3 linked regions of the Homo sapiens genome follow. The protein of the gene in region 1 interacts with the protein of each later gene in a pairwise test. Each region holds a gene or a part of one and is shown in the gene's direction. Other genes may lie near its edges.

Region 1 (7,000 bases):
ACTGCAGCCTTGACCTCCCAGGCTCAAGTGATCCTCCCACTTCAGCCTCTCAACTAGCTGAGACCACAGGCACACACCTCCACATCTGGCTAATTTTTGTATTTTTTTAGAGATGGGGTTTTATCATGTTGCCCAGGGTAGCCTCGAACTCCTGAGCTCAAGCGATCCACCCGTCTCGGCCTCCCAAAGTGCTGGGATTACAACTGTGAGCCACCATGCCCGGACAAGGGGCAAGTATTTTTAAATTGATCCACCAATGTTTAAAAATTGGGAAATTTCACATTTTAAAATTAGGATTTCTGACTTCTCTTGAAAAAAAAAATAAACAAAAAACTGAAAATCTGGCAAAATAGGCTAGAGCTGAGTAGTATCTGCCACCTTTGAAAAAATACAGAGCGTTCTAAGTCACAGCAGCACCACTGCTCCCTGTGGTCATACACATTACACCAGAGAGTGCATTTGAGTTTGCAACTAATGGCCTTTCCTGGTGGCCATCATCAGAATCTCAAGGCCTATAGCTCCAGCCCAAGAGATTCCCAATCCTGGAGGTTCCGCTGGGGTGGGGCTCAGTGCTGGGCTGCAGGGAGATGCTCAGGAAGCCAGCACTGCAGAGCAAAGGAGATGGAGATGGTGACTGGGAGCATTTTCACTGTGTGCATAGTGTGTGAAGTTAAGGCACAGAATGGAATTGTCATATCCTGATGATTTTTAGGAACCTGCAGGATGAAATGGCTCAGTCAACCTCTCCATGCCCCTTAGCTCCATCTATTGAAACACTACATATCCTTCAAGACCTGAAGTAAATGGCACCTCCTATGATAGTGACTGAGTTGAAATCTACCACCCATTGACCTCTATTCTCTGAGCTTCATGACCCTTTCCTCGGTATTTGGAGGCAGCAGATCTTCCCTGTGCTGAGTCGTATTTTCCCCAGTGCTGCCCTGGGCTCCCTGTGAAGACACCTCAGTTTCCAGGCACCTGGAGTCCCATGCGGGGCATTTCTCCAGAAATAACTCAGTGACTCAAACAGGAGAAATCGGGAAGATGAAAAACGTTCTGGAAACAGATGGTTGGTGATGGTTGCACAGCAGTGTGAGTGTGCTTAATGCCACCAAACTGTATGCTTAAAAATGGTTAAAATGGTTCAAAAAGAGGTGGGGGGACAGAAGGGACCCTGAGGTGATGGCACTGTTTAGTGTCTTGACTGTGTAGGTGGATACATGAAGCTACATAGGTGATAGCATTGTATATAATTAAACACACATACACATTCATGAGTGTAAGTAAAACGGAAGAAATCTGAATGATACAGGTGGGTTAATATTCTGGCTGTGATATTAGTTCTCTAAAATGTTACCATTGGAGAAAACTGGGCAAAATGTACAAGGGATCTCTTTGTATTGTTTTCCAACTGCCTGTGAATCTGCAATTATCTCAATTAAAATTTCAATTAAAAAAAATGAGGAGAGGGCCTGTGCTTTGCCCAGCAGATCTCTCCTCAGGGACAGGATCTGTCCTGGACCACCATCCCCTCCCAGATGCCTGAAAAGTGTGCAGTCAGTGGGTGGCAGGAACATTAAAGTGTCCCTGGGTCATAAGCTTCATCACAGGCCACCTAATAGTTAACAAAGAGGGCTTCGGGGTGAAGTATACCCCTTTGTCTCATACTCAAGTCCCTGTGTCTCTATAGGTCTCCTCCTGTCCCACCTGGCCTCCTCCTCTTCCCCCAGAGCCCCGCTCCGGCCAGGCCAGGCCCCTCCCTGCTTCCTGCACGTGGCATGCCCGTGGCTGCCTCGAGGCCTCCGCTCACACTGTTTCCCGGCCTAGATTGCCTTCTCCACTTTCTCACTCCCCAATCATTAAGAATACCAATACTTATGATTGCCAAAAATAAAGTGGAATAAAACAAATCATGTTATGTTTTCAATCAACTTTCTATTAGTACCGATTTCAGAAATGAAATTTATTTTAGGAGATTACCCCTATCCTTATCTCTACCCATCCCTATCTTTTTTTTTTTTTATTATACTTTAAGTTTTAGGGTACATGTGCACATTGTGCAGGTTAGTTACATATGTATACATGTGCCATGCTGGTGCGCTGCACCCACTAACTCGTCATCTAGCATTAGGTACATCTCCCAATGCTATCCCTCCCCCCTCCCCCCACCCCACCACAGTCCCCAAAATGCTTGCTTGTGGAGTTTTACTTTGCAAAAAAATAAAAATAAATAAAGAGTACACTGTATAGCTTCCAAAAAAAAAAAAAAAAAAAGAATACCAATACTTTCACACACAATGCAGACACCTATTACTTCACTTTGTCTTCTGAATACCTCTGGAGGTTAGCATAGCAGGGACTATTTTCCCTATTTTACAAGCCACCAGATAGATTCAGAGAGGTCAAGTGACTTGCCCAGGCTCACACAGTAAGAAGTGGAAACAGGTCATTAGACTCCTGATGCAGGGCTCATCCCAGTAGGCCACACTGTTGAGAGACCCAGGCTGCCGCACCTCTCTGTTTCCCCAGACCCCACGGAACCTGGCTCCTGCCCACACCTCCACCTTTATTTGGTCTCCATTTCTTGCTCCCTGTGCTCCAGCCACCTCTGCCTTCCTGCTACTTCTCCATCATGCCAAGCTCATTCCTTCTTCAGGGCCTTTGTACTCACTGCCCTCTCCTGAAGTGCTCTTTCTCCAGTATCACAGAGCCAGCTCCTCCACCCCTTCCAATTCCAGCTCAAATGTGCCTCCTCTGTGACACTTCCCTGGAAGACCTTAGCTTCCCCACCCCAGTCACTCTCTATCATGCCACCCTGTATTATTTTTTCTGCATAGCACTTTCTATGTAAAATGTGCTTGTTTACTTACCTCTCCCCCACTATATGAAGCATCATGATAGAATAAATTCCATCCATCTAGTTTAAAAACGTATCTTGGGCCCAACATTGTGCCTGGCATGCATGAGACACCCAGTAAATGTGTGTTGAAGGAATGAATGCAGCTGTAGTGGCCTCCTGACGCTGCCCTTCCCACAGGCTGGCGGCGCGCATCATGTGGCGGGTGGAGAGAGAAGGCACCGGGCTCACGGAGGGCTGCCTGGTGTCCGTGGACGACTTGCAGAACCACGTGGAGCACTTTGGGGAGGAGGAGCAGAAGGACCTGCGGGTGGACGTGGACACATTCTTGCAGTACTGGCCGCCGCAGAGCCAGCAGTTCAGCATGCAGTACATCTCGCACATCTTCGGAGTGGTAGGCCCCCTGCGTCCCTTCTCCATCCTCCCTGTCTGTCTCCTCTTTCCTTCCCTCCTCCCACTTGGGGAGGGTGGGGCTTCTCAGAAGTGAACTAAGAGGCAGAAGCCCTGTCTGCCCTGGACCCTGATTTCTATTTCCATAAAGGTCTCATCTAGCCCAGGCAGCCAGAGGCGCTGGAGAAACCGCCTTCTATTTACCGCATGTAGCAGAAACATCTACTGCCCCTTCCATTTCTGAGCCCAGGGACAGGCCTCCAAATGACCCAACTAATAAAATCCGGAGATTCTAGAGTATGATTCCTTATCAAGGAGGGGCCATGGTGACAGCTGGGATCGTCCAACTAAGAAGTTTCCAGAAACTGTCAGGCCAGAGTTGGGAGGGGAGGCCAAGAGGACTGAAGGAGGACAGGAGTTTGAAGTGAAGACCCCTCATCCTGGACTCTGTCTTCTGGCCTTGTTTACTGTGAGGCCATTCCTGCTGTATCTGAATTGGCATCCCACATACAAATTTTACTTATTTATCCATCTCTGGATGGTAGATTTGGATGGTAATTTATCCTCTTACTTATCTGCACTTTTTACATTTTTTTCCTCTCCACGTTGAAAATAAAGACCCCCAATCACTATCCCTTCCTGCCCACCAGTCACTTTGGAAACCTTTTTCCAGGTCTGCCAGGCAGGATTGATGTGAAGCCTGGAGCAGTGGGGGATGTGAGCCAGAGAGAGGGGAGTCAGGGTTTTGGGGTGGGAGCAACCAAGCCAGACGAGGCCATAAGAGTCCGGGAAGTGGGGGCGAGAACCCGGTGGATGAGGAGGCTCAGGTCCTGGCTGTGGGGATGGATGTGTTCCATCTGGTAGGCCAGGACCTTTATGTGGTGAAGGTGAGCAGGCTGAGGACGGAGGAGGACAAACATCACACTGACATCTCTCCAGTCTTCACCATATTGGGGGGCAAAGGGAGAGAGATTGATTGAGTCTAAGGATTTGGCTCACGCAATGGTGGAGGCTTGGTAAGTCCAAAATCTGCAAGGTAGGCCATCAGGCTGGAGATCAGGGAAGTGTTGCAGTTCAAGTCCGGAGGCATTCTGCTGGCAGAACTCCTTGCTCAGGGGAGATCAGTCTTTATTCTATTCAGGTCTTCAACTGATTAAATGAGGCCCACCCACATTCTAGCAGGCACTCTGCTTTACTCAAACTCCACCAATTTAAATGTGAATCTCATCCAAAAACACCTTCACAGAAGCATACATTATAGTATTTGACCAAATATCTGGGCACCATTGACCAGCCATGTGGGCACACAAAATTAACCACCACAGCTTCCCATGTATTATTTTACACAATCTTTACAACACAAGGTAAGGTCCATGCTTTCAGTATTTCTATTTTATAGAACAGAAAACCTAGGCCCAGAGGGGTTACATGACCTCCAAAAGCCACATGGTCAGCTTGTGCCCAGGGAAAGTCTAGAAGCAGTCTGTATTTTCAGGAGCCAGAGCTTCTACCTGTTTTTTTTTTTTTTTTTTTTTTTTGAGATGAGGGTCTTACTCTGTCACTCAGGCTGGAGTGCAGTGGTGCAATCATGGTTCATTGCAAACTCCATCTTCCAGGCTCAAGTGATCCTCCCGCCTCCCAAGTAGCTGGGACCACAGATGCATACCACTATGCCTGGTTAATTTTTGCTTTTTTTTTTTTATAGAAGCAGGGTTTCACCATATTGCCCAGGCTGATCTCAAACTCCTGAGCTCAAGTGATCTGCCCATCTCTGCCTTCCAAAGTGCTGGGATTACAGGCGTAAGCCACCACGCCTGGCCTAAGCTTTTACTTTTACCTGTTATGTTCTATAGCCTTGGGGTGAATTGGTGTGTTGAGTAATCTTCGGCATCCCTGATAGGTCTGGGGACTAGGGCTAGAGGTCATATAATTACCAAAGGTTAGAGCTGAAAAGATCCTTGGAGCTTATCTAGTCCAATTTATTCAACCTATAGATGGGAAAACCAGGGCTCAGAGAAGAAAGAAGTTTGCTCCAAGTAGTACAGCTTGTTAGTGGTACTCAGAGGCTTAACATCATGAACTTACTAAATGTCTGATGAGAATAAATGGAGAAAGTGACACTCCTCCATATCTATGACAAATATCCATGTGAGGGCATAAATGTCTACTGAGTTTCTGTTATGTACAGCATGTATTCATAGATGTATTTATAGATGAAGTGGAAATCTGCATGCAGTTACTAATGTATTCTACGTTATATTTATTCTTATGTATTTTTCCTACTGTGAGAGCAGATATTTGGTGTCTGTTTCTGTAAAGAAAAATTTATTTTTAAGGAAAAGAAAATCACTTGGATGCCACATCAGTAGTAACCAACTTGATTTGCCTTGAATCTCAGAGATAAGTGTTAAATATGGCACTCATCAGATTTAACAACTGTGAGCAGGGAATATAAAACTATGCACCAGATACAAAATAATCAAAAGAGATGTCAATTTTTTTTTATGAACAGCTACAGGAGTTTAAACTGAGTAGGCAGAGGAAACAGGGGAAGGAAAAGCTCACACACACACACACGCCCACGCGCACACAAAGCAGGGTACAGAGAGAAAAACCAAGACAGAGACTGAGGAATACTCATGTAAGACCCAGATACAGAAAAAGGAAAATATTTCCACCTTTGACTCTTTTAGAATAGAGCCACAAAAAACTTTCAAGGTAGGGCTGCATTTTTGCAGGTATGGGACTGTTCCATGGCCCTAATCTTGTGTGTCATCTGGAGTCACGCAGAGAACAGGAGACTAATTGTTCTGTGTCCAGACTCCCTAAGCATCTCCAGGGTGAGACTGGGTCTTCTGTTTTTTAAAACTCCTTTCAACAGCTAGGATGTTGTTCTGTCCATGTCTGTCGACTGACTCTTTCATCTTTTCCCCTGGGTAGATTAACTGCAACGGTTTTACTCTCAGTGATCAGAGAGGCCTGCAGGCCGTGGGCGTAGGCATCTTCCCCAACCTGGGCCTGGTGAACCATGACTGTTGGCCCAACTGTACTGTCATATTTAACAATGGCAAGTGAGTATGTCTTTATGTGGGGGTGTGTGTGAAGGGGATGGGGAGACCTATGGTGTTTTCTCCACTTGACTTAAGCCAAAGTCAACCTGCTAAACCTGAACTAGCATAAATTTTAAATGTATAGCACATAGAAATCTCATTCCAGAATAATTGTGAATGAGAGAAAGGCATCATGGAGGATATCAAAGAATTCAACCTGGGTCATTTCTGAATGTGTATGTTTCTTGGGGCTGCCTGGACAGGTTAGATAAACCTTTAACTACTATTTTAAAACTTGAAGCCTAGGATTATCTGTCTAGAGGTCATTTAGTCAAGGTCTCAGCAGGAATCAGGAGGCACACTCAAAAGGTTTTACCCAAATAGAATTGAATGAAGGGACAATTTACAGAAGTGTGGACAGGGTTTAAGATACTAACAAGGGGCAGGGACTGGTGGCTCATGCCTGTAATCCCAGCTCTTTGGGAGCCCGAGGAGGGGGCGGATCACTTGAGGTCAGGAGTTTGAGATCAGCGTGGACAACACAGTGATACCCCCGTATCTATAAAAAATAAATAAATACATAAATAAATACATTAGCCGGGCATGGTGGTGTGTGCCTGCAGTCCCAGCTACTCATGAGGATGAGGCAGGAGGATCACTTGACCTCAGGAGGTTGAGGCTGCAGTGAACTATAATCATGCCA
Region 2 (7,198 bases), on another chromosome or scaffold:
CCACAGCCCCCCAAAGACCAGCTTGGGGGTGGGGTGGCCAGGACCCTCACTCACATAGTTCCCTCAGGGTCTGGGTGTAGGTGGGCAGGGACTCCTGGGGGGTGCCCGTCTGTAACCTGAGGCCAACTGGGATCTCCTTCATCTTTGGGGGCTGTGTCTCATCCCAGGCCATCCCCGGCTCCGGGCCCAACAACAGCACAGATGCCTTGGGCCTGCAAGGGAGACCAGCAGCCACTGTCTCAGCCCCCGGCCGCTCCCAGCCACATGCCCCACAGCCTGTCCCCTCTATTGTCCCTCAGCCCCCGGCTGCTCCCAGCCACGTGCCCCACAGCCTGTCCCCACACTGTCCCTCAGCCCCTGGCCGCTCCCAGCCGCCTGTCCCCTCTACTGTCCCTCAGCCCCTGGCCGCTCCCAGCCGCCTGCCCCACAGCCTGTCCCCACACTGTCCCTCAGTCCCCCAGCCGCCTGCCCAGCAACCTGCCCCCCACACTGTCCCTCAGCCCCCTGGCCACTCCCAGCTGGCCCGCCCCTTCTCCCCCTCTCCGCCAGTTACTGGGTGGGCTCTGGTTGTGTCTGCCTCAGGTGACCATGGGTCCAGTGTTTGCCTCCATTGATGTAAAAATTTGCCAGGAATTTCACTGCCTTCTGGTCAGAATTCATCATCAGAGTCTCCTGGCTCTCTTCCCCAACGGCACCACGGAGCTCTGTGACCTCACTGGTAGGCCCCTCTGTTGCTGGGACTCCTGAGGAAGACACATTGTCTGGCCCTGGAGGGGCTGCCCCGGGCCCCGACCCCTGGTGGGCCCCTCCCCCACTAACTAGATGATCAGCGGGTCCGCCTGGGCCAGGACCCCCAGCCTGCCCCGGTGACTCCTGGCCCAGCCCTCTCCCTCCCCGCAACCTTTCCAGCCTTCTCCCCTCTCCTGCACCCTGGGGTCTCCTGGGAGTCTGGGGTCCACTCTAGCAGGTCTGGGAGGACTGAGGCCTCAGCAGAGGGGGTGGAGGGAACAGGACCCACCGGCATCCACCAAGCCCTAGGAGATGCCCAGCTGTGTCTGGCCAGCCAGGACCCCCTGGGGGTAGGAGGGAGGGGCCCAGGAAGGCTCCCTGGAGGAAGAGGAGGAGCCGCCACCCCATCTGGATTTCCACTTAAGGGAAAAGCAAATCCACATCAGATGGGTCTGACACCAGAGGCAGGCCGGGCCTTGGAGCCCAGCCAGGGCTGGGGTGTGAGGGCCTACCTCTCACCTGGGGGCACAGAGGCTAGAGGGTGTCACAGATGGCCGGGCTGCCAGAGCTGCAAAGGAACAGCCAGCCTGTGTGAGCAAGAGCCCGTGTGGGCACCAGGGCCCTCACTGTGTGGTCTCTGGAGCTGACCACCAGTTGGTCCCAGCCCTGACCTTGGCCCAGAATCCACCAGGGCAGGGCCTGTGAACAGGGCCAACTTGGGGCCCTCCTCCGCCCTCTCTGGATGCCTCCCCTTCAGCACTGGGCCTGCCAGGCAGACAGATGGACACGTGCTTGAGGAAACACGGGTTTTATCTGGGCGAGGGGTTCACGCCTGTGCTCCGGGGCCCCTGCCCAGGTTGTGCCGGGTTCAGAGTTGACTGGCTGCCAGTGGAACAGAGTGTACTTTGCTAATGAAGCCCTTGTCATTGGACAGATAGGCTCCTCCAGGTCCTCCCTGCCCTGTAATAAACGTTGCCACCGTGAATGGTGCTGCTGGACATCCATCCTCTCCTTGAGAAGGTGCGTGGGGGAAATGCTCTCTCAGTGTCCGGCTCTGCGCCCACACCACCACAGCCGTCACAGAAGGAGGCCTCTGCCCAAATGTTGAGGGAGGGGGGTTGTTCCCCACACACCAAGCTGGGTGTCCTCTAATTCATTTCCTTCACCATTTACCTGGAGATGGTGTCAGATCCCACAGGGTGAGAGCTCCATCCCAAGAAGGCCTCCAGACACAGATAGGGGCAGGGCCTCCAGACACACACCAGTCGCAAGCCTGGGCCCCTGGAACTTCTGACCAACTAGCTTCAATTTGGGGTTCCTGTGACACCGTCTTTGGGTTAATTTGCTGGAGCCACTCATAGAACTAGGGAAGTTATGACGTTTACTGGTTTATTGTAAAGGGTATTGATTGCAAAGGATACCAATGAAGAAGCGTAGAGAGAGGCACGGGGAGGGGCTGGCGCTTCCATGTCCTCGCTAGTTGCCGCCCTCTGGGAACCTCCAGGTGTTCCCCTGTCCAGAAGTTCCCTGAGCCTCAGTCCTCTTGGGATTTTACGGAAGCTTCCTGATGTCAGCATTCCTGCCCCCAGGGCTTAGGTGGGACCTCTCCTGGAAGGGTCTTAAGACCCACAGTCAGAAAGGTGAGAATGTTAGCGTCCTGCCTTGGGGCAGGTGAAAGGAGGGCAGGAGGTAAAAGTCCCCCGCCCGCACCCCCCAAGCATCACCCACCCAACATTCTAACAAAAGGCCCTACCAAGGGCTATGGGAATATGGGAATTACCAGCCAGGAACGGTGGAGGAAAACCAGCGTCTACCAGAATGCCAGACAGCTTCTTAGGAGTGGAAGCAATGGTCCCAGTTTGCAGTGTCTTGTATGGACGTGATCCATACCAACTTGGTTTCCAGAAGGCACCACCCAAATTAGAGGCCCTTCTCACTGTGACCCTGCCGGCAGTAAGCCTCAGAAACTGCTCTCAACACACAGTCAGCATGTATGTGATTATGGTCCTGCTTTATGCCCTTATATTTACGGACTGCGGTCTTTTTTTCTTAAAAAGGTCATATTGGCCGGGCACAGTGGCTCACGCCTGTAATCCCAGCACTTTGGGAGGCCGAGGTGGGCGGATCACGAGGTCAGGAGTTCGAGACCATCCTGGCTAACATGGTGAAACCCTGTCTCTACTAAAAATACAAAAAAAAAAACCATATTAGTCTGCATTTTCCATGGAGGTGTTGTTTATATCTTTGTTTTGTGAGAGCTTTTTATGCTGATACCAGATTTGTTCATAGCACTTACTGCAAACTTTTTTCCAGTTTTTTAGTTTGCCTTTTAGTTGTTTTTTTGTTTGTTTGTGAGAAATGGTCTGGTTCTGTTGCCCAGGCTGAAGTGCAGCGGTGCGATCTCAGCTCACTACAGCCTCAACCTCCTAGGCTCTGGCCATCCTCCCACCTCAGCCTCCCAAGTAACTGGGATCACAGGCACATTCACCATGCCTGGCTAATTTTTCTTTCTTTTTTGTAGAGGTGGGGTTTCCCCATGTTGCCCAGCTGGCCTGAACTCCTAGGCTCAAGCAATCTGCACACCTCATCCTGCCTCGGCCTCCGAAAGCACCGCAATTATAGGCATGAGCCACAGTGCCCAGCCTTTCTTCTTTCTTTCTTTTTTTTTTTTTTTTTTTGAGACAGAGTCTCACTCTGTGGCCCAGGCTGGAGTGCAGTGGCACGATCTCAGCTCATTGCAATCTCCACCTCCTGGGTTCACGCCATTCTCCTGCCTCAGCCTCCCGAGTAGCTGGGACTACAGGCGCACGCCACCGCACCTGGCTAATTTTTGTATTTTTAGTAGAGACGGGATTTGACTATGTCAGTCAGGCTGGTCTCGAACTCCTGACATGATCTGCCTGCCTCGGCCTCCCAAAGTGCTGGGATTACAGGTGTGAGCCACCGTGCCTGGCCGCCTTCCTTCATTTTTATGGTTAGGAAGTCCTTCCTGTACAAAAAAAGAACAAAATTCAGGATTTGCTTAAAATGTAAACATAACACCCTGCGCCACATGAAGGGCTGGAGGGAGAGTTCGCACAGCCCTGCAGGCCGGGAAGCCCCTGACTCGAGCCAAGGCTCTGCAGCTGCAAGGCCTCCTGTCAGAGGAGGGGGCCTGGGGACTCCCTTAGCCTCACCCTGAGACTGGGGCTGGTGGCCTCCTGGGGGCAGCAAGAGCCCAGGCCCTTTCTGGAGGGACAGTCCTGTTTTCTGAGCTCTGAAGTTAATGGGACTTCCTCCCGGACCACCTGCCTCACCGCAACTCCTCCCCTGCCTGGCACCTGTCTGGGCCTCAGTGTCTCACCTGTGCAATGTGGGCCCTCACAGGGTTAGCGAGGTGGCCTGGCCCAGGAGGTGCCCACAATGCTGGCCCCTCACAATGGTTGCCCGGTGACAGGACTCCCCTCAGGGAAGGGAGCTGGATGCCGGGAGGGACTGGAGCCAGCAAGGCCAGAGTGAAAGCAAAATGACAACTACTCAGAAACACGATCTCTTCACGCCGGAGCCTCACTATGTCCCTGGGTGAGAGCCGGGAGCTCTGGAGGTGGCTGGGGCCAGGGCTGCAGGAGGGGGAGAATGGCTGGGGCCTGAGGCATGGAGGCCAGCTGTGAGGGGCCCAGAGCTGGACCCCAGGAAACTGAAGGCCACACCACGGGGCACTGCAGTCTGTGGGCTGGGGAGCCCTGGGACAGGGGAAGCTCAGGGATGGGGTTGCCAGGGGCCCAGGCCTCACCCTCCCTGCTGGTGTGCAGCTGCGAACTCGATACCTGGTGGCCAGCACGTCTGTCGAGCAGAAACTGGGTCAGCCAGCAGCCGGCAGAGGCCGGCTAGTAAGTGCCCGACGCCCACTCCAGAGAGGACTCCACACTTCATTTCATTTTATTTATTTATTTTTTGAGACAGAGTTTCGCTCTTATTACCCAGGCTGGAATGCAATGGTGCAATCTTGGCTTACCGCAACCTCTGCCTCCCAGGTTCAAGCGATTCTCCTGTCTCAGCTTCCGGAGTAGCTGGGATTACAGGCATCTGCCACCACACCTGGCTAATTTTGTATTTTTAGTAGGGACGAGGTTTCTTTATGTTGGTCAGGCTGGTCTCGAACTCCTGACCTCAAGTGATCTGCCCACCTCGGCCTCCCAAAGTGCTGGGATGACAGGCTTAAGCCACCACGCCCGGCCAGGACTCCACACTTTAAAGACAAGGCAAGCAAACGCCAGGCTGCCTCACTAGATATCCCCCCAAACAAAAAATAAAAGTAACCCCTCTACGGAACGTGTGTGTGTGTGCACCTACATACACACACGCTACATGCAAAGGGGAAAGGCTGGGAAGAAACCACACCTGCCTCTGAACAGCTACGTCTGGGGAAGGGGCAGGTGAAGCTGAGGCTGGAAGTTGCTCGGCTTTTTTTTTTCTTTTGAGACGGAGTCTCGCTCTGTTGCCCAGGCTGGAGTGCAGTGGGGCGATCTTGGCTCACTGCAAGCTCCGCCTCCTGGGTTCACGCCATTCTCCTGCCTCAGCCTCCCGAGCAGCTGGGACTACAGGGCCCGCCACCAATGCCTGGATAACTTTTTGCATTTTTAATAGAGACAGGGTTTCACCATGTTGGCCAGGATGGTCTTGATCTCCTGACCTCGTGATCCGCCCGCCTCAGCCTCCCAAAGTGCTGGGATGACAGGCGTGAGCCACCGCGCCCGGCCCTTTGGCAGTTTTTAAGACGAAGGTAGTTCTCACTCCTTGAAAGATCACATAGACCCTGAGGCGCTGAACCGCCTGTGACCACCTGCACCATGCCCCTCGAGGTTGAATGAGGGCCCGGAAAAGCCCAGCCCTCCACCTGCCTCCCAGTTCTCTTCCCGTGCAGGAGGCTACTGGCCTCCTGGGGTGGCACAGGTGCAGGCCAAGCCCACGCAACACCCTCCTGGTGGGCCCTGCGTGTGTCCAAGGGTCCGTCCCTCGCCTATGTCCTGGCCCACACGTCTTGTGCCTGTACTTGCTTTGCCAGGGCAGAGCACCCCTGATTTGCTGGCAGTTGGAATGAGGGGTGGGAGAGGGTTGGAGGGGCTGGTACAAGGCAGGCGGCCATCTGCTGTGGTGCTGACGTGTTCCCAGCATGTGGTGTGTGCCGCCTGTTCAGGCTGAGAGAGCTCTAGAAGGCAAGTGCCACTGCAGCCCCATTTACAGGTGAGCAGAGGGCAGGCGAGCTGCCACAGGCCAACCTGCTGCTAAGTGGCCAGCAGGCTGAATCCACATCTGGCTTGAAGGGGCCCTGCCCAGTGCTGGGGCTGCCCTTGAGACCTGCCCTGCCTTCTTCTCTTCCCTCCACAGCTATGCCGGCTTCTTTCCGCAGCTGCGCTACCAGGTGGGGAACACCTATGGGCGTACCACGGGGCAGCTGCTCACAGACCCCAGTGTGCAGAAGAGCCCCTGCTCTGTGCTGTCCCCCATGTCCAAACCCAAGTTCATTGAGGACTTCAGCCAGTCCAAGCCCCCGAGGGTTCCCTGCCAAGACCTGACGGAGCCCTACATCCCCCACTACACCAGTGAGCTGCCAGTCCCCAGCCCTGCACCCTCCTGTGCCCGCCTGCCTGTCCCGGCACTCACAGGCTGCCCTGTTGGTACAGGTCTGAAGCCCTCTAAGAACTTTGAGATTCTGGGCCAGCTCCCACCCTTGGAGGTGGACGCCCAGGAGCCGCCAGGGGTAGAGAACATACCCAGACAGATTCTGCTGCCTGCAGGCTTCACGCCCGACACCCCGCACCCTCCGTGCCCACCAGGCAGGAAGGGAGACTCCAGAGACTTGGGACACCCAGTATACGGGGAAGAGGCCTGGAAGAGCGCCACTCCTGTTTGCGAGGCCCCCAGGCAGCACCAGGCAGCCAGGGGATGCACCAGTGCCAAGCCCATTCCGCTCAGCCCCAGGTGGGAGCTGCACCGTGACCTCCGCTTCCTCCCCGCTCCAGCTGTACCACTGCCAGAGGGATGAGTACCCACCCCCCGCCCGCCGCCAGCAGGAGACGCTAGATGTGGGCAGCTTCCAGCGGCTGCCGCAGCTGGACCACCCTAACCTAATCCAACGCAAGGCCATCTCAGGTGGGTGTGGGCCTGGGCTGGGCTGGAGAAGGCCGCCCCTCCCCACAAGGTTCTTGCAGTGTGAGAGCCCCTGAGGAGGCTGCCACAGGGGCCCACTTTTCCTGCTCCAGAACAGGCTAGCGGCCTGGGGGGACCTCCTCTGCCTCCCAGCTGCTTCCAGGAGCCCAGCTTTTCCCAAGACGAGGCGGTGCCTTGCCTGCCTGTTCCCATTTGGCCACATCAGACAGTCGCCAACGTTCAGGGAACGAAAGGGAGCCTTGCCTGGCTTCCCTGACACGTCTGAGGGCAGGTGGGTGTGCCCAGGGGAAGGCTAAGGGGGCTTGGGGTAGCCCGTACA
Region 3 (7,000 bases), on another chromosome or scaffold:
CTTTTTCTTTTTTTAAAATCTAAAAATTTTGATTGGAGAAGGATTAGAGACTAAATTGTTGATATTTGAATTTTATTGTGGTTTTGGTTAAAGTTTGATGCAGGACCTTCAGAGCAAAGAGAGGGTACAATGGTGACCTTTAAACAATATATATATTTTTTGAGACGGAGTCTCGTTCTGTCGCCAGGCTGGAGTGCAGTGGCACGATCTCGGCTCACTGCAACCTCTGCCTCCTGGGTTCAAGCGATTCTCCTGCCTCAGCCTCTCGAGTAGTGGGATTACAGGCGCCCACCACCACATCCAGCTAATTTTTGTATTTTTAATACAGACAGGGTTTCACCATGTTGATCAGCATGGTCTCGATCTCCTGACCTTGTAATCTGCCCGCCTCAGCCTCCCAAAGTGCTGGGATTACAGGCATGAGCCACTGCGCCGGGCCCTTTAAACAAGATTTAAAGACCAGCACACAAAGTTTCTGAGTACAAAAAAAGGTAATATTTTAGGTTAGGGTCATTAGACCAGAATTAGAATCATTCTTTTTTTTTCTTTTTTTAATTAAAAAAGATGGGGTCTCCTTATTTTGGCCAGATTGACCTTGAGCCTCAAGCAACTTCTGCCTCGACCTCCCAAAGTACCAGGATTACAGATGTGAACCATTGCACCTGGCCAGAATCATTCTTTTGATAATAATGATGGTAATTGAGTTTATATGCTGTGTTCTCATGAATCCAAGCAGAGCCCACTGTTTCCAGAGATTCCCTTGGCAGCCACCCTGGGTTGAGGAGGGTCCCCTCCTGGCACAGCTGGAACCACCGGTGAAGAGCCATTTTTCAGTCAGCACCGTTTAGTAATATAAGACTTTTAGCCTCGAGGAGTCTTCCGTTGTTAGTTCCTAACTTTAATGACTTTGTGGTAAAAATTCCTTAGCGAATGACTTCTGTGCAACAATCATGTAATTTTTAAAATTCCAGATGCTTTAGCCGTTCAGAATCCATTTTTTCTTTCAAAACCAGAGTTCACCAGCTGTTTCTCTTGAGCGAAGACTTTGCAATGAGCTTTCAAATGTTCACACCAAGTAGAAGCAGGAAGGGAGAACTGTGGCTGGGCAATGAATGAAATACTGACATTTAGCTGTAGAAGGTAGGCAGGGGCTCACATGGTGTGCACAGCCCCTTATATGACTACTGGTCCTGTATCTGCTTCCTTTCCCTGCCCCATTTCCCCTTTGGCTTTTTGTCATGACTCAGAAATGGATGCTAGACATTATGGGGCTCCCTCCAGTCACTCGGGTCACTCGTCACAGACTTATAAACAGAATCACAGAACTTATTGTCAGATGAAGCTTCAAAACACCAGTTGGCTAAACTCCTTGTGTTCTGGCAGGTAAGATGTCGGCATCCTTATTTAACAAATGATGCTACTGAGAACTATGTATGCAGAGACATAGTCTCAAAATAAGTGCAGTCATGCCTCGCATAATGACGTTTTGTCAATGTCACATATGTGAGAGTGGTCCCATAAGATTATACTGGGCTGTCAATTTCCTAATGCCTAGTATTTACTATACATTTTAATGTTATTTTGTGTACTTCTACTTAGTAAAAAAAAGTTAACTGTAAACCCGCCTCAGGCAGGTCCTTCAGGAGGTATCAGAAGAAGGCATTGTTGTCATAGGAGATGATGGCTCCATGCGTGTTTTTGCCTTGAAGGCCTTCCAACGGGACAAGGTGTGGAGGTGGAAGGCAGGGATAGTGATGATCCTGACCCTGGGTAGGCCCAGGCTAGTGTGTGTGTTTGTGTCTTAGTTTTTAACAAAAAGTTTGAAAAGTAAAAAAATAAAAATTAAAAATAGGAGCTTATAGGATAATAAGGATATAAAGAAAAAATATTTTTGTACAGCTGCACAATGTATTTGTGTTTTAAGCTGTGTTTTTATAAAAAAGTCAAAAAATTAAAAAAATTTAAAAATTATTATATATAAAGTAAAAAAAGTTATGGTACGCTAAAGATAATTTATTGTTGAGAAAAAAATTTAAATGAATTTAGTATAGCCTAAGTGTACAGCGTTTATAAATACAGTAGCATGAAATTATGTCCTCAACCCTCACGTGCACTCACCACTCACTCACTGACTCACCCAGAGCAACTTCCAGTCCTGCAAGCTCCATGCATGATAAGCCTCCTATAGAGGTGTACCATTTTTCATCTTTTATAGTGTATTTTTACTGTACCTTGTCTATGTTTAGATATGTTTAGATGGAAAAGTACTTACCATTGTGTTACGGCTGCCTACAGTATTCAGTACAGTAACATGCTGCACAGGTTTGTAGCCTAGGAACAGTAGCTATACAATATAGCTTAGGTGTGTCATAGCCTATACCATCTAGGTTTTTGTGAGTACACTCTATGGTGTTTGCATGACAAAATGACCTAATGACACATTTCTCAGAAAGTGTCCCTGTCAATAAGTGATGCATGACTGTGATTGAAATAAGTAGCCCCACATTATTTTTCTCATGTCAACTTCAGGTTAATTTTCCAGCCACGTGGCCTTGTGCTTGCTCATCATAAAAAAATGTGGATAAAATTCTACCTGTTAAGCCACAACATTTGCCTGTCATGGGTGGACATTTACCGTTTATTTTCAGAGTTCAAAGTTTGAACTCTCAGAGAAATGCAAATAAGACAGTAAACTCCTCGAGGTGAGGAATGGCAATCTCTGAAGATAAATCATATATTTATTGTACAGTATTGAATGTTGTAAGTGGCAGTAGAGATCATGTAATCTGGCCTTCTTCTTTTACAGGTGAGAAAAGTGAGAAACAGCAGCAGAGTGATTGTTAGAACCTGGCTCCTCTTCTTTTACTTAGAACTGTTTTCATTAAGTTGTGTTTCATTTCATAGTTCTGTATAATTCATCCCTGCTTAAGATACATTAAATGAATTGAACTGAATCCCTTTTTTTTGAGCTATGATGGCTCTTAAAAACTTAGATTTTCAGCCAGGCGCAGTGGCTCATGCCTGTAATTCCAGCAGTTTGGGAGGCCAAGGTGGGCAGATGACCTGAGGTCAGGAGTTCGAGACCATCCTGGCCAACATGGCAGAAACCCATCTCTACTTAAAATACAAAAATCAGCTGAGCATGGTGGCGTGTGCCTGTAATCCCAGCTACTTGGGAGGCTGAGGCTGGAGAATCGCTTGAACCTGGGAGGCAGAGGTTGCAGTGAGCCAAGATCATGTCACTGCACTCCAGCCTGGGCTACAGAGAGAGACTCCGTCAAAAAAACAAACAAACAAAAAACCACGTAGATTTTCAAGTAATTACTATTGTTACACTAAATGTCAATGGATCCTTAAGAATCTATTTGTTCATGAATTCATTATTTATTCATTCAACGTTTATTGAGTGGCTACTTGGTTCAGAATTAGAATTAGCATGACAGCCACACATTAGAAAGGTATCACTTTTTGACTAAATTAAAAACTTGCTAAAAATAGTTATCCATTGATGGAATAGGCTACCCCGAAAGGCAGAGAGCATTTTGTCATTGGAAGTATGTAGGGCAGTGTGGATGACTCTAGGGTGACTGTCATGAGGGTTCTGCACTGGGGAGGGGGCTGCGTTGGATGATGAATGGGAACCCTTCCAGTGCTAAGATGCTGTGATCGTTGTCCTGCAGGATTGGGATTGTGCAGGATTTGAGCTACTGTGTAAATTTCCTATTCCCTGCTCATTGGGCTTCCACATTTTGCTTCCTTCCCTTGCCCAGGTGGTTCCATTTCAGGAAGCCTAGATAGCTTCTTTGCAGTCATCTGCCCGAATGTCGTAGCTACTTTAACTCCCCAGAGCTGTACATGTCTAGGATTGATATTGATCATTAACACAATTATGTTCGCCCAGATGAACAAATCTACCAGGAGTAGAAACGTGCATTTGACAGGTGGCCTTGCATGGAGACTAATCGCTTTCACAGGTTGAAAGGTGAAATATCTAAAGTTTAATGAGTAAGTTGTGTCCTGAATGTGGAATCTGAGTTGAAATTGCATTTTGTGACATGTACGCCTACCTAACTTTTCTTTTTCATACCTGTCATCTTTTTTTTTTTTTTTTTGAAACGGAGTCTTGCTCTGTAGCCCAGGCTGGAGTGCAGTGGCGCAGTCTTGGCTCACTGCAACCTCCGCCTCCCAGGTTCAAGCAATTCTTCTGCCTCAGCCTCCCAAGTACCTGGGATTACAGGCATGCCCCACCACGTGCAGCTAATTTTTGTATTTTTAGTAGAGACAGAGTTTCACCATGTCGGCCAGGCTGGTCTTGAGCTCCTAAACTCAAGTGATCCGCCTGCCTCGGCTTCTCAAAGTGCTGGGATTACAGGAGTGAGCCACCGCGCCTGGCCTGTACCTGTCATCTCTTGGTTTGTGAGTGGATTGATTATTGGACTTTATTTTTAACACAGGAGAATGTGCGTGTTTTGCATTTGTAGTGAAAGCATGCCTCATCTTACTCCAACACTGATAGGAAAAGGAAGATTATTTTACAATGGTCAAGTGAAAAAAAAAGTAAATACAGAGATAAAACGGGGTTCTAATATTTCTGCTACACTGGAAACTTAGAGTTGCAAGAGCTGTTTTGGGATCACAAATCTTCTGAAGAAAAAAAGTTTGCGTATTTCAGTACAAGTCTTAATGTTTCCCTAGCGTCTTGTGTTATAGCTGCAGGCCAAGCAAAATGAAATGTGAGACACTGTCCTTGGGGATAGAGCATCTGTATTCAATTTAAACAGTAGATTTGGGGGCCTTAAATTGCCTCGACTCTATTAATCATTTTGTGTTCCTTAGTTTATAGAATTATCTCCTAGAGACATTAACTTATCCATTAATTTCTTCCATTGTGTTTATTTATTCATTCACAAACACTAGCACCTACTGTATACACAGTACAGTGTTGTACATTGCAGGGTACTTAAAAATGTAGAGTGCCAGGCATGGTGGTGCATGCCTATAGTCCCAGCTCCTTGGAAGGCTGGGGCGGGAGGATTGCTTGAGGCCAGGAGTTCAAGGTGGCAGTGCGCTATGCTTGTGCCTACAAATAGCCACTGCACTCCAGCCTGGACAACATAGCAAGACCCTGTCTCAAAAAAAAAATGAAAAAACTCCCCCAAAACCAAAAATGTAGATTGTTCTCAAGGGCCATCCAGTCTAGAGAGAACTAAGGGAGCCTGGTATTCTTAGGCCTTAGAGCTTAACAGCCACACCTAGGATGCCTCTTCAGAAGGTGTTCCAGCCCTTCCTGTGTCTTCCCAGTTCTGATACTGGATTATGTCATTATGTCTCTGTTGAGTAACTCCTTCCAATCAGGCCTGCACACTGCTGCCAGGACAGTCCTCACAAAGCACAGATCTGATTGGGTTATTGTTCCTCTGTGGAAGGGGCTTTCAGAGACTCATTATCTCCCCCCAAGCAAATTCTTAGCATCTCTTTTCAAGCTTTCCATACACTGGCCCTTAAACACTTAAAACGGACACTCTGGCCTTTTTATTATGCACATTATTCTGCCCACCGAGAATATTACAGAATCCGTCTTTCTTGCTCCCAATCTGAACGCATCAAAATGTCATCCCTCATTTACCACCTAGCAAATCAATAATGCTTCTCAGCCTTCCCTGGTTCTCTGGAATCGTCTGCTCTCTCCTTCTTCTGTTATAGTTTGTTATGGATATAACCTGTTTTTCTGACTCCAATGTAGACTTCTTCAACTCAAGGTTTCAGTTCTGGTTTATCTCCTTACTCCCTCATCTATGTAGTACACTTATGGTTTACTCTGTTCTCACTGGATTAGACCAAACTCTTAATTATATTTAGGATGTATTAATCCAATGCATAGATTAACCAAGTCTATTATTTTTATATCTTTTGAAACCAATCAGGAGTTTCAGAAGTTCAGTTCAGTTTAAATATTTATTGAGATGCATACACTATATAGTCAGATACTATGATAGCTCTTGAATATAAAAAATATATATACTTATGTTTGTATATATATGTGTAAATTGATATGTAAATTCAAATAGATAGTGTTGTCTACACCATTGAGAAGCCTATAGTCCCGTGGAAAAAAGAGAATTCATTCTCATGAAGTTTCCGGATATTGTTTCATCAGAAGGACTGGGCACATCGGGGTGTACTAAAATCATTAAGAAGTATTTAGCACCAGTAGATGCCTAATAAATACCTTACAGTCTAGATGGATGGATAGATGGAGGAAGAAAGAAGGGCTCCTTTAATTTATAATTTACCTATTGCTGGGTTTACTCCTAGGTATGACAATTTTGAAAACAATTTACTCAATGTTTATTTCCACACTGTGTATGAAATATGCTGCTCTTCATTCAGAAAGAGATATATAATTCTCCATTTGTAGAACACTGAGTTAATTTCATGGTTGTGATGTTGCTTTTGCTTACTTTCACCCACATTTTCTCCTCTGTAGGGTGGCAGCTCCGTAGGGTGGACACACGCTTTGGGAGACCTGCAGCTGTTTGTGTCTGGGGGCAATGGTGAAGGGCAGTGACTCATTGGCCCAGAACTCATGATCTCATCTCTCACCCAGCTGGCTAATCGGCCTTGGGGACAGGAGGATGAGCGCTGCACTCCCTCCTAATCATGCAGCTTTTGTATGTCTTTCTTTACTTGACTTAAATTGTAATTTGAATGGAAAAATGGACAAATTCTATCATTTGAATTTAACTTTTATATATTTTCTTGACTCTGATTTGGGATTATCTAAGTGCATTTATTCAAATATTTATTGTGTTTTTGAAACTTTTTTTGAAAAGCATAAGGTAATACATGATAAAAGATATTGTTATTACCCCTGTTTCTGCCATTTCAAGGAGTCAGAACAGGCTCAGTGGAAACAAAATGAGATGTCTTATGGGAGTTACTTTCCCTTCAGCTAATCTTGGTATGAATTTATATTGACACTACCTTTAAAATTTTATTC

What was found. Proteins that work in one complex are often made in the same cells at the same time.
Region 2: the proteins of SMYD1 (region 1) and CIMIP2A interact in binary tests that used the Homo sapiens proteins (3 or more experiments, as listed by UniProt).
Region 3: the proteins of SMYD1 (region 1) and DISC1 interact in binary tests that used the Homo sapiens proteins (3 or more experiments, as listed by UniProt).

Annotation. Positions count from the first base shown.
Region 1 is NC_000002.12:88,084,825-88,091,824, forward strand, and holds part of SMYD1 (histone-lysine N-methyltransferase SMYD1), read left to right. Parts: intron 1-3,037; coding exon 3,038-3,251; intron 3,252-6,187; coding exon 6,188-6,318; intron 6,319-7,000. UniProt on the Homo sapiens protein: Methylates histone H3 at 'Lys-4' (H3K4me), seems able to perform both mono-, di-, and trimethylation. Acts as a transcriptional repressor. Essential for cardiomyocyte differentiation and cardiac morphogenesis.
Region 2 is NC_000009.12:137,244,752-137,251,949, reverse strand, and holds the start of CIMIP2A (ciliary microtubule inner protein 2A), read left to right. Parts: upstream 1-4,234; coding exon 4,235-4,290; intron 4,291-6,096; coding exon 6,097-6,311; intron 6,312-6,392; coding exon 6,393-6,643; intron 6,644-6,731; coding exon 6,732-6,861; intron 6,862-6,971; coding exon of another isoform or gene 6,972-7,135; exon of another isoform or gene 7,136-7,140; intron 7,141-7,198. Other genes in the region: protein STPG3, read right to left, coding at 55-212, 554-663. UniProt on the Homo sapiens protein: Microtubule inner protein (MIP) part of the dynein-decorated doublet microtubules (DMTs) in flagellum axoneme. Binds to the intra-tubulin interfaces.
Region 3 is NC_000001.11:231,629,790-231,636,789, forward strand, and holds part of DISC1 (disrupted in schizophrenia 1 protein), read left to right. Parts: intron 1-7,000. UniProt on the Homo sapiens protein: Involved in the regulation of multiple aspects of embryonic and adult neurogenesis. Required for neural progenitor proliferation in the ventrical/subventrical zone during embryonic brain development and in the adult dentate gyrus of the hippocampus.